Homo sapiens: one gene and its partner. The protein of the gene in region 1 purifies or fractionates together with the protein of each later gene. This does not show direct contact. Each region holds a gene or a part of one and is shown on either strand. Other genes may lie near its edges.

What was found.
Region 2: the proteins of ANTXR1 (region 1) and RICTOR purify together in Homo sapiens (affinity purification with mass spectrometry; 3 studies listed by BioGRID and IntAct, with this or other methods). This does not show direct contact.

What each region holds. Positions count from the first base shown.
Region 1 is NC_000002.12:69,007,636-69,016,291, reverse strand, and holds the start of ANTXR1 (anthrax toxin receptor 1 isoform 1 precursor), read right to left. Parts: upstream 3,114-8,656; 5' UTR 2,793-3,113; coding exon 2,641-2,792; intron 1-2,640. UniProt on the Homo sapiens protein: Plays a role in cell attachment and migration. Interacts with extracellular matrix proteins and with the actin cytoskeleton and thereby plays an important role in normal extracellular matrix (ECM) homeostasis.
Region 2 is NC_000005.10:39,063,803-39,071,499, forward strand, and holds part of RICTOR (rapamycin-insensitive companion of mTOR), read right to left. Parts: intron 1-7,697. UniProt on the Homo sapiens protein: Component of the mechanistic target of rapamycin complex 2 (mTORC2), which transduces signals from growth factors to pathways involved in proliferation, cytoskeletal organization, lipogenesis and anabolic output.

The sequences.
Region 1 (8,656 bases):
GGTAGCCACATGTGGCTATTAAAGTTCAAATTAGTTAAACTTATATAAAATTAAAAATTCACTTCCTCAATCGCACTAACTACATTTCAAGTGCTCGAGTCACATATGGCTAGTAGCTACTGTATTGAACTGCACAGATATAGAACTTTTCTACCGACCTAGAAAGTTCTACTGGACAGCGCAAGTCTAGAAAGACTGCACCAATTTACATTTTCCCTAGTAAGAAATGACAGTGCCTATCTCCCACAAATTGGCCAATACTGAATATTGTAATTTTTAAAAAAGTTTTTGCCAACCTAATAAAAATCATATTGTTTGATTTTTTCATTTCTTTGATTAATAACGACCTTTTTAGTTCATTTATTGACTCATATTTTTTTCTCTTGTGAATTATGCACTTAGGCTATTTCCTATTGGGATTTTGCTTTTACTGCTTTTTATATATGAAAATCAATCTTAAGAGAGTGATTTATGTGGCAATAGTTATTGTAACTTCTTATGTTTTTTCATGGCTTATTTTTCATTTATAGAAGTGTAAAATTTTAATATATTCAAATCTCTATTTTCCTTTATGGTTTCTTCCTTATCATGTTTTAAAAGCTCTAAACCTAAGATTACAGTAATATTCATCTAAATTATCTTCTAGTTCTTTGATCATTTCATTCTAAATATTTAGATTTTCAACCTTTCTGAAATTTATTTATGTGTATGGTTTGTAAAGTATAAATCTAACCTTTTTCATTCTCCATGTTATCAATCACTTGTCCAGGAACCATTTTTTTTTAAATTAATGAATCATTATATACTGATTGGAAATTCCACTAAATGTTTACATGTGTTTGGATCTACATGTACTTGTCTTTTTAGATTTTCTACTCTATCCACCTATTCTTTGGCCTTTACCATCCTGTTTTTATTAATTTACATTATAATACATTTTAATATTTGGAGAGAGAATATGGCTTCATTATTCTTTTCCAAAAATGTTTCAGCTCTTTTTACCTGTTTTTTTTTTTTTTGCTAAGATAAGCCTAGAATCATTTTGTTAAATTCTTATCATCAAAACAAACTCTTTCAGAACTTTGACTGAAAAGTTGAATTCAATTTCTAAATTAATTTGGGGAAAACTGGTTATCTCTACAGTATCCATATCTCTATAGTATCTCTACAGTCATCCATTCAGAGACATGGTGATTCTGTCCCCCTTTTTTTTTTTTTTTAGATTTTCCTGAATATCATTCTGAATTGGCTTTTTAAAAAAGCACGGAGGAGGAGCACCTCCGACTGTTTTCATGCACTGTCTCTAAGTCTGTGAGCTGATGCTTCCAGCCACTAGAAGTAACAAAAGAAATTCCATTCCTTAGCACTGGAGCATATTTTCAGTATCCACCTTCTCATAAATCTGCAGAAAAGAAATCTCACTTTTCATCCAAAGAATCTGGAGTTCAAAACAGCCTTTACGGAAAAATCAAACTCCAGGGGCAACTGCAAAGCACATTTGGTGTCTAGCTAGCCAGCTTATTTTGCAGGACTCTTTTTCCAACTCCTAAATACTTTCCAGTCTGTGAAATCCATCTCCCCACCACTGTAACAGCAAAGCGCCTCTCCTGGCACTGGAGAGCTCACTCAGTTTTAATGAGCACGGATCTTCTGTGAGGGGCTTTTTATCGTTGAAGCTGGTTTTCAGCAGATAGCATGAAGCTTCCTTGGGTGACTGTGGCTTGGCAAACTTATGCGGATTTGGGAAGTGCTTCATTGGTCAGAATTCAGCTCTCCCTTGAGCAAATCCTAAAGCCTAACCACTTTTTGCAAGGAAACCAGGGCTCCTGCACCTCCCTGGTAGCCCACCAGTCAAATGGCCAAGAGCTTGAATTCACTACATCTGGGGTACTCAAGTCGAAGGGGAGGGACATTTGGCAATGTCTGGAGGCATTTTTAGTTGTCACCACTAATAAGGAAGGAGTGGGGGGCGGGGGATGTTACTGGCATCCAGTGGGCAGAGGCCAAGGATGCTGCTAAACATCCTACAACGCGCAGGACAGCCCCCACCACAAAGAATTACCAGGTTTCAATCTCAGAAGTGCCAAGGTTAAGAAACCCTGCCTTTCATTCTCACTCAGTGCCCGGTGAGAAGTATGCATTACATGATTAGGAGCAAAGATAATGCCTTCCGTGGGACAGCGTTTCAAAACAAAACAAAAAAACAAAAACAAAAACAAAATGCGACGATTGGCTTTAAAATGCCCAAGCCTCTAACTTTAGGAGTGCCTGTGCCTGCAAGTTCTGCCTTTGGTAAGCAAGCCTTTCCCACCAACACGGGAGGGAGTCACAGAAACTCAGCAAGACAATAGCATCCTCCAAGCCCCTTGCCTGCTCCTGGGACACAGAAAGCAAGACAGAAAAGAAGTCTGTCCCCTTCCGAGCAAGCGGCGTCGCCTCGGCTGCGGGCTCTGGAGCCGAGGCTGGGAGGAGCGCGCCCCAACAAAGGCGCAGCACTCCGCCGCCGCCTGCCGCGCGGTCCCTCTGTGGCCCTGGAGATGCGCTCCTGTCCCCAGGCGACCCTGCCAACGAGCCCGGCCCGGGGCGAAAGCGTTTTCGCCCGCTTAGCCTGGGGTGGGGGGGACAACTCGCGGCACTTACTTGTCCAAAATGAAGTACAGGTCAAATCCGCCGTAGCAGGCTGGACCCCCATCCTCCCTGCGTCCCCCTTGCCCGGCGCAGATGAGCACCAGAGTGGCCAAAGAGAGCCACTGGAAGCCGATGCCGAGGGCTCTCCGCTCCGCCGTGGCCATGGCCCGCAGCCCGGGGAGAGCAGGGTCCGCTCCTTCCCACGCTCCGCGAACTCGCCACGACCCTCAGGGACGCGCCATCCGCGGGCCCTTCCTCGCGGGTCCTTTATTCCCCCTCGCTCCCTCGCAACTCCCCGGAAGCAATTGTCTGGAGGAGTTCAAGGTTTCCCCTCTGGTTTCCGCTCCGATGCTGTTTCTGGGTTTCGGGTTTCAAGGATCCCAATCCTGTCCTCCGCTTCTTTTAAAGGGGAGGGCTGCCTCGGTCCGGGGCCGCCGGGCAGCTCCCGAGGCCGCGCCGAGCTTTTGCAATGGAAGGAGTTCCGTCCCGACGGTTCTTTGTCCCAGATTTTAAATATGATGGGGGGGGGGGGGGGTTTCAAATTGTTCTTGGTGGGGGCAGTGCTTTGCCTTCTCTCCTTCCTCTCTGCCCCCCTTTCGCGTTCTTACGGGGAAGAAAGTTCAAAGGCTGCCACCTTGTGGACAAAGGCGGCGAAAGCACGCGTGGGACCCGCGGGAGTGCGTCGGGGGCGGGGGCGCTTCCAGGCTTCGCGTATAAATTTCCTTGTCCTTACCATTCTCATGTGAGCTGTGCGTGTTTTCTTACTCCTTCCTTCTTCCCACGCACTTTCCCTTTCTTTTTCCGTGACCGCCTCTCCATTCTCTGTAGTCCTTCTATTCCTTCTTTTCCTTCCCTATCCTGCATCTTTTGATAAGGTCACTAAACATTGGATGAGAATTTGTTTCCTCCAACCACGGTGACTCCGGCTCCCCAGGCTAGGACCTTTGCAAACAAACCATTGTGCAGATGAAGTAGGGGAAAAACGGGACCTTTGTGGTATGAGTCATCAGAGTGACCTTACATGGTCTTAGTCTGTCTGGACCATAAAAGAGACTGTTGGGGTCCGGTCTGAAACCATCACAAACAACCCCACAGAGTGTGGTACTTAGGGCTGCTCCCGGCATGGAACAGCTGAGCCTTCTAGATGGCCACCATCTCCATCTTTTAGGGATTCTATGATAATAGTTCTTCTTTTCAGCCTGTGAACTTTGACATTTTCTCTCTATCTTTGATTTAGGATGGAGGAAGTAAACAGCTTACAAGAGTAGAGACGCTCCAAGCAGTTTGGAATTGGCAGGGAAGTTCCGTGCTAGCCTCTCTAAATTGGAGAATCAGCCTCTGAGCCCCAGTTCCGAGTGGTACCCCAGTTCTAGCTTCCTATTGTCTTCCGCTCTGGGAGCCCTCAGTGCATATGCATGTACTGTTTTCCCAGGATTCTTCCTCCAGACACACATATTCCCCTCCACTTGTGTGCCTCCCAGACCCTTATACCCCAATGTGACAGTCCATGGTGGTTTCCCCCAACATGTGTACCATGGAATCTTAGTGTCTTGGAATGCTCCACTAACCAATAATCATGTTGTCAAATCAGCCTTGAAGATTTGTCATGCGTAGCACTGACCTGCCTCCAAAATGAACCCAGTGTTTCTCACCTCCTGGAATTCACACCCCTTCCACCTTGGGTGAGACTGACCTGTGAGTAATTAAGAAGATGGTGTGTGGCTTCTGAGGATAGGCCATGAGAGATGTTGTGGTTTTTCCCTTCTCTCTTGGATCACTCACTGTAGGAGAGCCCACTGCCATGTCGTGAGAACACACAAGCAGCCCCAAGGAGGGGTCCGTGTGGTAAGGAACTGAGACCCCTGCTGGCAGCCAACACCACTTTGCCAACATTGTGAGTGACCCATCTTGGACATAGGTTCCTGACATCCTGTGAAGCCTTCAGCTGACTGCAGCCCTGTCTGACATCTTGACTGCAACCTCATGAGAGATCCCAAACAAGAACTACCCAGCTAAGCCATTCCCTGATTCCTGATCCACAGAAATAAGCGAATTTTTATTAGTGTTTTAAGTCTCTAAGTTTGGGGGCAATTTTAAATATAATAAAAGATAACTAATATATGCCTAGTATCATATTAAAGCCTTGAGAATTTCTGTAGGAAAAAAATTGCTGAACTGTGTTTCCCAGACTTACTTGACCATGAAACTGTTGTTTCATAGATAAAATGTATTAAACCCATACTTTGGGAATTATTGCTCTCAGGAAAAAAATAATTGGAGGGAGATTAAAATACCCTAACCATCCAAGTCTTCCTCTTCCATGTCTTCTTTCTCCTCAAAGGATTGAAAACCCATGCTGACCCCACTGCAGCTCGATGACTTGAAAGACAGTGAGGAAATCTATAGAAATCAGATGGGTAAGGGAAAGCAGAAACACTGGTGGGAGCTGGTAAGAGAAGAAAAGGGATATGACAATGTGATGGAGAGAGTGTTTATGGGATTGGCAAGGAATAGGAAAGAGCTTGAATGTGGAAAGCGGGTGGAGGGGTGAGATGAATCAGGGAAGCATTAAGAATATCTTCTCTCACCGTCATGCCCCCAGGGCCGTCTCAAGTTGTTAAGAGTTTAGGTGACAGAGGAATGTGTTGAGAGCTTTACAGGCAAAATAGTTTAGGAAATTACCCCGGAAGGAAGCAGGGGGTGTCCTGATAGAGCTCTTCAAAGTTACAGACACCATTATCCAAGATAGATGAGGGCATAGTTCTTCCAGGGGTGGGAGGAGAGAGGATATTCTGTGGGAAACAAGGTTATGGGGAAGGGGAGAAAGATCAAGAGGCTCCTCTGGACAAAGATGGTATTTTCCAGGGCAGACAGGCAGTGAGAGGAATTCAGATATTTGAGTGTCCCAGTGCCTCTGCCTCTCTTCCAGGATTCTAGAAAGAAGTCCATCTCTAGATCTTAAAATGCCTCTACCCTGCTCTCCCTCCAGCCTGAGGAAATACATTCCAGGCTGCCTCTTCTACCTAGAGGGCTTTGTGCCAGCCTCACTCACTGTAGGGAGGTGTTCTCCAAACATTCTTGAGAAGTGAGCTTGAAGTTGAGCTGCAGAGATATGGTTATTCGCAGGGAGAGTTTAAATACGACAAAGATGTCCATAGTCTATAACAGTGGTAAATGAAGCCTCTTCTGTGATCCCAGCATGTTCGCTCAGCGGGGGATGTTGTCAGGTGTCAAAAATTGGCAACAACTTTTGCCTTTGTTTGTTAGGCTGTAGTGGCCTCATAATTAGTGCTTGTAGAGAAATGGGAGAGGTGGGTCAGTCACTGCAGGCTAGAAGGCGGCTTGGGGAGAGTCTTGGTGGGTTCCTGCTAGCATTTTCCAGAATGATTTTACAACTCAGAGACATATAAATGTCAAGATCTTCCTACACAAATGTTACCATCCTCTTGAGGTAATTCTCAGTGTTCTGACTTGATTGGGAGTGTCCTGGTTCCTAATGCCTTCCAAGGCCTCCAGTGTTCTGGAAGAGGTTGATCAGCCTTTTCAAGGCCTATAAAGATAGATACATGAGGTTTGGAAGGGACTCTTCTGCTTCTTTAATTCAAGGCAGTGGAAGAACGATATACATGGTGATGTTCAGCCTGTGGATGGATATTTCTGGACTTGGAGAAGTACAGGAGAAAATTAACCATGCACGTGGGAGCATTTGAAGGGTAACCTGGAAGCCTAGGCAGGAAAGAGTTTCTTGCAGGAAGAAGTAGTCAACAGAGCCATATGCTGTGGAAGTCAGGAGGATAAGCCCTAAGAAAACTCCAGTGATTTGGCACAAGTGTCACTGTGTCACAAAGGAGCATTCCAGTAAAGTAATGCGAACAATGTTAGACTGTGCTGGGTTACCAGGAAGCAGAAAACTCTCTTTCAAGAAGATAAGGGGATAAGGGGTAACTTGTAAATGTTCAAATGTTTTATTTGCCACAAGGAAGAATCCCAAGATATTCAAAGGTACCAGGAATTTCAAGGTCCCTGCCTTCCAAAAGATTGGAGAGTTTGTCTGACTAGACTGATTGTCTCAAGGCTTTAGTCCTGCACTCTGATCACTGTTCTACCTGAATTTACTAGGCTTCCTTCCTTGAGACAGTAATTATTAAATATGCCCTGCCTATCTACAATATCAGCCTCTTAGTAACTCGCTCTCTCTTACTTGCCCTCTACTTTCAAACACATGTGAGCGAGCCCTTTTCCCCGGTTGTCAAACACAAAGTTTACTGTCCTAATAATCTGTCAAGAACTCACTGGGCACTAAGTGCCATTTGTCTGCATTCTTAACATTTTAGAAAAGGTTCCAGGTAACCCAGACTACCCCAAAAAAATTTGAGTAAAAAACAATTTTTTTTCCCTAGAGAAGAAATATTTGCCACAATGTGGAAAAATCTGATACTCTCCATAAAGTTTTATGTCAGTCAGGTAGGTCCAGTGTTTTCCAGGATCTTGGAGGATCCTGTAGTCTCTGGGACCACCATAGGCAAAAAGTGAAGTGAGTGTTCCCAGAAGCAATTAATCATCTGGAACAACAAAGTGTCTTAAGAATCTGAATCAGCTGAGTATTGACTTTTGGTGATAGGGAAAGCAAAGATACAGTAATAAAATTAAGCCCAGGGGCAGAACCATAGGCTAGAGCAAGATGTCCTGATGGTATCTTATAGGTCAAGCCAGCCACAACTTCAGCCTAGAAACAGTCAAAACCTCTTTGAACTCAGCATCCCATTGATACCCTATCCAAAGCCCAACCAAGTCAACCTTAAAAATAAATTCAGTTCAATAAGTCCCTTGACTCATTTACGGACACTCCAAAACCCATCCCAAAGCCCTGCTAACACCTACTCCAATGCAGTGATGAAACCCATTCAACACAGGCCCAATCAAACTCTGACCAATTCAGAGCCCTGCAAAAAATCAGCCTATTTCCTATATCATTGTCAGCCCAGAGGCAGATCCTGTTTAATCTGGTTTGCATCCCAGCTCAGCTAAGGCCACACAACATCCCTGTGCATCTTAAGTCACAGCCAAGCCTCTGAAGAGCACATTCTTACCAAGGATCCAGTCAAGAGTAATCCATAGTTTATAACAACCTAAAACGTCCATTTCAGATGCTCAAAAGGACCCAAAGACTTGCTGAACAAAAAGTTCGTTTCATTTAGACCAGAGACCAGGCCAATCCAACTCAGAACTCAGATGACAGTGGAAATGGACCAGTACAGTCCAGGGTCCTGACAAGCCCAGAGAGTACAAATGCCCAATGGAAACCTGTATTAAGCAAGTCAAGGCCAACACAAATCTAGCCACAAGACCAATTCAGCCCAATCCTGTCCAATTCTGCTCAATTCTGACATAATTAAACATATTTAAGACTAGGGTCTTACTTGGAGACACCAGATCAATTTACAACTGAAGATGCCAGGAAAAATCTACCCAACCCATCAAGCCTAACACTCCTTTGATCATTTTGCTAATGGCCACCATCCAAGTCCCAAGCCAGAGGGACTAGTGGTTCTCAAAATGCGTGAGTATGTGTGTGTTGTGGTTGATGTGGGGAATGGGTACTGTGAAGGTGGGGACAAAGAGATTTGCTCAGTCTGAAATAACCAGTGGAGCTTTATCAAGGTACCTTCATCTGAAGAATGTCAATAATGAATGTGGGGTTTGAGGAACACATATACTTTTAAATAGTCTTAAAGTGACCCATTTTGTTTCCTTCTTGCTTCAGACCCTCTTCCTCCTGATGCAATCTTTTGAAATAGGTAGAATGGATGATAATTCCCATATACTGTTTGAGGCCTAGGCAGGACAACACACTGACTAATGCTGTAACCTCATGTCAGGCTATCTGGGGCAAAGCACAAGTCCACCAGTTTTAACTGGGTGACTGTGCAAGGTACTTGACCTGTCCATACCACAACTTCCTTTCTGCAAGATGGTGATAATAATATTATTATGTACCTCATTGAGTTGTTATGCAGTTTCCATGAGA
Region 2 (7,697 bases), on another chromosome or scaffold:
ACCATTACAAATCCAAATTAACACAATGGGGTTAAAAAAAAAAAGGAAAAGTAATTGAAGGACGCAGATTCTTGAAAATCCAGGTAATTAAGGTTAAAAAAACGTTTTCTGTATTTCTTACTGACATCTTTAACAGGATATGTTTAAAGCATTAGAATATCCTCAATTTTATATTTTATATAAATGTCATCATTCCAGGTACATTGCTCAGTTTACGCAATCTGGCTGGAAGCCTCTAAAAGAGGAATACGAAGAATATACTTATATTTAGGTTCTCTTTCAACCCTATTACTTTGGGTATATGAATGTTATACGTATTAACTAGTTTTACACAATTATTTTCAATTTACTTTTATGTCTGTAATTTTATAACTACATTTGTTGTATGGATATAATTTTTAAGGAGCCATTCAACTTTAACCTGGCCACTGTAACAAAAAAACACAAATAACAGTATCTGTAGATGACCCAAAAAGCATTAACAGTCAACTTCAATTATTCATACAGATTAACAAATATTTTAACCTGTTTATGTTCTTCCACTAACAGTATTTGCTTAGGAAACAAAAATCTGTGCTAATAATTCAAATAAAATGTAAAAGAAAATATACATCAATCTATTGTGGGAGAGAAAAGAACATAAAATATTTTCTCACCAATATAAAGTATTTAGATTATATATTTAGCATTCTTCTACCATTATTCATCTTTTTAAGGCAGGTAATTGAGAATGGACTGTATTTAATAGCTTGGTGACAGAGGCACAGATACACAGGCAAGCAAATCATTCGCTCACCCCACTGTGCTTTTCGCAGTCTTATTCTTGGTAGCCTGAGACCTGGGAGCGGGAGGAGGCAGCAAGTCACTGCAGGTGGATCACTTAAAAGGAAATTGAGAGTTGACTGTAATTTAAATTTAAAGTGCTATGAAATACCACCACTCCTACATGTATTCATTATTGTTTGTGGGACTACTACTCACAGTGATTTAACAAGGCTACAAATGCTTTCTTTTTAACCTTTTCAATATTCCAGGTCTGTAGTGATATGTGAGAATTACAAAGGTAGGAGGCTAAAGTGCTGCAAGTATAAAGTAGTATGCATTTTAGAGGTGAGGAAATTGAAGCCAGAGAGGTTAAATAGCATGCCATATCTTCCTCAGATTAAAGCAGAACCTCGTTCTCTGGACTTCAACTTCAATGCAACAGTCTAGCAGCCCCTTCAATTCAAAACTCTTCTCCTGGCTTATGTATCAGGCCATTCTTGCATTGTTACAAAGAAACACCTAAGACTGGGTAATTTATAAGAAAAGAGGTTTAATTGGCTATCATTTCTGCAGCCTATACAGGAAGCAGGGCACCAGCACTTGCTTCTGGGATGGCTTCAGGAAGCTTTTACTCATAGCAAAGACGAAGCGTGTGCAGGCATCTCACATGGCAGAGCGGGAGCAAGAGGGAGCTGGGGGGAAGGAGCCACAGGCTTTTAAATAACCAGATGTTGTGAAAACCTACTATCACGAAGACAGCACCAAGCCATGAGGGATCCACTCCCATGACCCAAACACCTCCCACCATGCCCCATCTCCAGCATTGGAGATTACAATTCAACATGAGATTCGGGTGGGGACAAATATCCAAACTGTATCATTCTGCCCACGGCCCCTCCCAAATCTCATGTCCTTCTCACACTGCAAAATAAACTCATGCCTTCCCAACAGTCTCCCAAAGTCTTAACTCATTCCAGCATTAACTCTGAAGTCCAAAGTCTCATCTGAAACAAGGCAAGTCCCTTCCACTTATGAGGCTGTAAAGTCACAAATAAGTTATTTACTCCCAAGATACAATGAGGATATAGGCATTGGATAAACATTGCCATTTCAAAAAGGAGAAATCAACCAAAAGAAAGGGGCTACAGGCCCCATGCAAGTTCAAAACCCAGCAGGGCAGTCATTAAATCTTAAAGCTCCAAAATAATCTCCTTTGACTCTATGTTCCACATTCAAGGCACACTGCTGCAAAGGGTGGGCTCCCAAGGCTTTGGGCAACTCTGCCCTGTGGCTTTGCAGGGTTTAGCCCCCAGGAATGCTCTCACAGGTTTTAGTTGAATGCCTGTGGCTTCTCCAGGTATAGGATGCAAACTGCCAGTGGATCTACCATTCTGTGGTCTGGAGGATGGTAGGCCCCTTCTCACAGCTCCACTAGGCAGTGCCCCACTGGGGACTCTGGGGGGCTCCAACCCCACATTTCCCCTTGGCCCCACCCTAATAGAGATCCTCAATGAGGGCTCCACCCCTGCAGCAGGCTTCTGCCTAGACACCCAGGCTTTCTCATACATCCTCTGAAATCTAGGCAGAGGCTCCCAAGCCTCAGTTCTTGCACTCTGGGCACCTGCAGGCTTAATAATACATGTAAGCCATCAAGTCTTATGGCTTGCACCCTTTGAAGCAGCAGCCCGAACTGTACCTGGGCCCCTTTGAACAAGGCTGGAAGCCTGAGTGGCTGGGATGCAGGGAGCAGTGTCTTGAGGCTGTGCAAGGCAGCAAGGCCCGGCTAGCCCAGGCCCACAAAACCATTCTTTCTTCCTAGGCCTCTGGGCCTATGATGAGAGGGGCTGCTGTGAAGGTTTCTAAAATGCCTTGAAGGCCTTTTCTCCAACTTCACGGATATCAGCACTTTGGCATGTGTTTAATTATGCAAATATCTCTAGCACGTGGTTGCTCTATAGCCTGCTTGAATTCCTCCCCTGAAAAAGCTTTTTCTTTCTTTGCCACATGGCTAGGCTGCAAATTTCCCAAACCTTTATGCAGTGCTTCCTGTTTAAAAACAAATTCCAACTTTAAGTCATTTCTTTGCTCCTACATCTTAGCATGGGCTGTTAGCAGCATCCAGGACACATCTTGAACACTTTGCTGCTTAGACATTTCTTCCGCCAGATACCAGAGGTCATCACTCTCAAGTTCAAACTTCCACAGGTCCCTACAGAATGAACAGAATGCAACCAAGTGCTTTGCTAAAGCATAATGAGGGTGACCTTTGCTCCAGTTCCTACTAAGTTCTTCATTTCCACCTGAGACCTCATCATCATGGACTTCATTGTCCGTATCACTACCAGCATTTTGGTCACAACCATTCAACCAGTCTCTAAGAAGTTCCAAACTTTCCCTCATTTTCCTGTCTTCTGAGTCCTCCAAACTCTTCCAACCTCTGCCTGTTACCCAGTTTCAAAGCTGCTTCCATATTTTCAGGTATCTTTAGAGCAATGCTCCACGCCCACTTACCAATTTTCTGTAATAGGCTGTTCTTGCACTGCTATAAAGAAGCATCTGAGCCTGGGTAATTTAAAAGAGGTTTAATTGGCTATTGGTTCTGTAGGCTGTACAGGAAGCATGGTGCCAGCATCTGCTTCTCGGGAGGCCTCAGGGTGTTTCTGCTCAAGATGGAAGGTGAAGCAGGAGTAGGCATCTCACATGGCAAAGTAGGAGTGAGAAAGAGTAAGAGGGTAGGTGCACACTTTTAAACAACCAGATCTTGCCAGAACTCACTATTGCAAAAACAACACCAAGCCATCAGGGATCCATTCCCATGGCCCAAACACCTCCCACCAAGCCCCACCTCCAGCATTGGGGATTACAATTCAACATGAGATTTGGGTGGGGACAAATATCCAAACTGTTTTAGCTTAAGAGATCACAATTTTCTCTCTTCTCTTCTATTGACTCCTTTCTTCTTATTGATTCCTACCCTATGATATACACCCTCATCATCTTATCTATTTTCATACATTCAAATCTTCAGCTCTTTTTCCATTTATATCCCTTTTCTCAACATCTTACACACAGAACAATCAGACTAGAAATTCAGGGCAACTAAAACCTCCATTCCAGTATTTGCTGCCACCTTTTACACATTTATATAATCACGTGAAATTCAAGGTGCAAAGCTGAACTCATTATCATCCTTCCCAAAATGACTTCTCCATTTTATGGCACCATCAATTTCATTGTCCCTTAGGACAGTAATCTTAAAGTACTCTTTTCCTTCTAATCTCCTTAATACTGTACTATTCTTTTTCCCATGTCTCTCACTCCCTTCTTCCAGTCAATTAATGCCTCAGTGATTATCTGATGGATGCTGGGGGAAGCGGATGTTAAAAATGGGTAAAACAGGCCTCCTGCCCTCAAGAAGCTAAAGATCTAGTGAAGGGGGAAGAAACTGGACAAAGAACTAAAGTAAGACAATGGTAACTGCAATTTAGAAAATAATAAATAAAGACGTAAAAAAGCAGAGAAGGAAGCAATAAATTCCCACTGGGATAAGGAAAGATCTCCAGAAATGGCATGTGACCTCAACCTTAAAGAATTAGGACTTCTATAGATAAACTGTGCTGGAAATGCAATTCAAGGCAAAGGAAATACCTACGCAAGGTCAAGCGAATATTAAACTACATGCCATGTTCAAGGAATAGCAAACATTCTTCTTTGACTGAAAGATTCTCAAGTAGGGGCATACAGTCTCCACGGAGAAAGAGGTGGAATGGGGGTTGGTGCTTTAGACTGGCAAACTCTCCCCAATCCTCTCTGAGAAGGACTGTATGTAATGAAGTGAACTATGCAGAGAGGCAGATATATTGAGATGTGTATGGTTAAAATAGTACAGAAGAAAACCATATGGGAGTAAATCAAAAAAGGCCTTGAATGCCAAACTAAAGAAATGTGGACTGTATTCTGTGAGCAAAAATTAGCCTAGAAAATGTGTGTATGTGTTTTGTTTTGTTTTTTTATTTAAGAGAACAACAAGATCAGATCTAGATTTCTGGGAAATAATCCTGGCAGGCATACAGTAGACCGAGTGAAAAAAGGTGAGAAGATATTACTGCCACACGATGACATAATGAGGATATGAACTGACAATGGGAACAGAAGGAGAGACTGAATTCAACAGCTATTTCAGAAGCTAATCAGAGGAGTTTAGCAATACAACAAAGAGGATAAGCAGCAGATCTCTAGCTTGAATAACAGAGGATGGCGGAAATACCTAGAATGTGAAAAGTGGGTACACTTTGGGGTGCAAAGTTTTACACATCACAACTCTGAGATGATTATCAGACACATACCAGTCACTCACTAAGCCCTGTGACACTGGTTAAGTTACCTGTTTGAGTTTTAGCCCTTTAAAATTTCAAAGCCTATATTCTCAACTGTAAAACAGAGACAATAAGTGTAGCTAAAACAGCTGAATATTAAGTAAAATAATGAAATCAGTGCCTGGCACAAAACTAGTATTATAGTAATAGTATGTATAATAGTAGAATGTGGAACTTAAAAATGCCCATAAATTTTGCAAGAGGTTACTAGCATCTTTTAAGAAATTATTTTCAGTACAGAGGGAGAGTTTTGCTTACAAGACTTTGTTAAGCAATAAAGTTGTGGAGTGAAGACAAACTATTCTGTCTGTAGAGCCTTCAAAAAAAAGTTTTTGTAATATTGTCGTTATCATTCCATATCTCCCACTTTCAGCCCATGCCTAACATAGTACCTGGTCCATGTGAAGAACATAAAAATTGCTTGCTGAACATGAGAAAACTGAGCCAACTGTAAGGGAGAAATGAAGAGAAGATCTTAGTTCTACAAAGAATCTTGAGGAAACAGTATTAGAAGCATAAACGTTTTTCCAAGTTACCCTTGGAAAAGAATAGCAACGCTTTATTCTTTGAATCAGGGTAAAGACAGTAAGTCTGGGCAGACAATTGAGGAATTCACACTGGATGGGCAGCCTCTACATTTTAATAAAGAAATAAAATTCACTGCATAGAGTGGGGGGACTACAAAATCAGTCTGAAATCTGAAGAAAGCAAATTAGATAATTCTTCCATTTTAATATGTATTTGACTTCATTTCTGTAGCCAACGCCATGGTCCAGTCTTCTATCATCCGTCAGATTATATCAGCAGCACCCTAGGCAGCTCCTCTGCTTCCTAACTTTCCCCTTCCCAGGGTATGGTATATTCCCAAGAGAGCACATATTTCCTTCCACTATGTCCACCATTATTCTTTTAAGAAGTCAACCCCTCTATGAGACTTCTCTGATCCTTTTACCCACCAGACAGTTAATCATTCTCTCCTCTGGCTACTATTGGGTTACCTCTGTTTCCTATATAGTTTGATTACTTAATTTATTTTTCCACCTGCAATCATTTCCTTATGTCTATTCCAATGAAACCCTTAAAAGGGGGAAAGAGTTTCCTCATTTTTATTCTTCCAGCAGTTAATTCAGCATCTGGTATATAAATGTTCAGTCAATGTCCATTTTGTCTAACTGAATGATTAAACAAATGAGAAAACTCCTAACCAGAAGAAACTGGAAAATAAAAAGTTAGAGTTCAGGGCCGGGTGCGGTGGCTCACGCCTGTAATCCCAGCACTTTGGGAGGCCGAGGCGGGTGGATCATGAGGTCAGGAGATCGAGACCATCCTGGCTAACAAGGTGAAACCCCGTCTCTACTAAAAAAAAATACAAAAAATTAGCCGGGCGCGGTGGCGGGCGCCTGTAGTCCCAGCTACTCGGGAGGCTGAGGCAGGAGAATGGCGTGAACCCGGGAAGCGGAGCTTGCAGTGAGCCGAGATTGCGCCACTGCAGTCCGCAGTCCGGCCTGGGCGACAGAGCGAGACTCCGTCTCAAATAAAAAAAAAAAAAGTTAGAGTTCAAATCTACATCATTTTGGAACCTTTCTGCTTTTCTAGGTATTAGACAGCAACCAAGAGAGTCAGTTTTTTAGTTCTTAGTGGAAACGTAAAGGAGTTAATCAAAAATTATAAAATTCAACTATACTTTTAAATAAATTATATTCTAATAATTATATTTGAACTAGTGTGTCCATATTCTGGGAATTCACTTTGAACACAATAATTAAAGTATACCAGGAGGGGTTTACCCAGGAAGAACACTGTATCTTTTCAAGTGATTCAGTACCAGTAAAGAGATGCACTACTGGACTGATAAGACAGTCTATCCTTGCAGTACAAATGGCGAGAGGAAGCATTTGGGCTTCAAAATACATTTTGGCATGCATTACAGACAGTATTTAATAATATCATTAGCAAATATTGGGGACTTTCACAAATTAAGTAGTTGTCTGAACAAAACTCAGAGCAACCATTACCAATACGCTGACTGTAAAGTCTACTATAATGAAGTTCCTAAACTAGATAAAAATTAATCCATCAACAATTTTTAACTGAGGCACTCTATGTATGAACCACAGCACTAACACAAGTACCAAAACCAACGAAACTTAGAATTCTTCTGAGCCTCAAGAAGCTTGCAAGGCTAGCCAAGTCATTATTAAATAGTATGAAATGTCCTGGTGTCAGAGACAAAAATTCTAAGGTTCTATGAAATACAGTATCACATTTTATCCTAAGTGAATATAACATACTGCACTTCGCTTAGACTTAATTTATTGGTAATGTCACAGATTGCTTTACAATTGTTATATTCAAGAACTCTAACTCAGATAGACTATACCCAATTAGTATAACAGTATGTTTCAAAAAAAAAAGAAGCTCGAATACCATAATTCCTTATTAACAAGTTTATAATATTCAAAACAACCGTTTAAAGTATTTTTAATGTGAGTTTTAAAACTGTGATTTCACAATGTAGGAAGGCAACTAATGTTAAATATCACTTACAAAGTATCC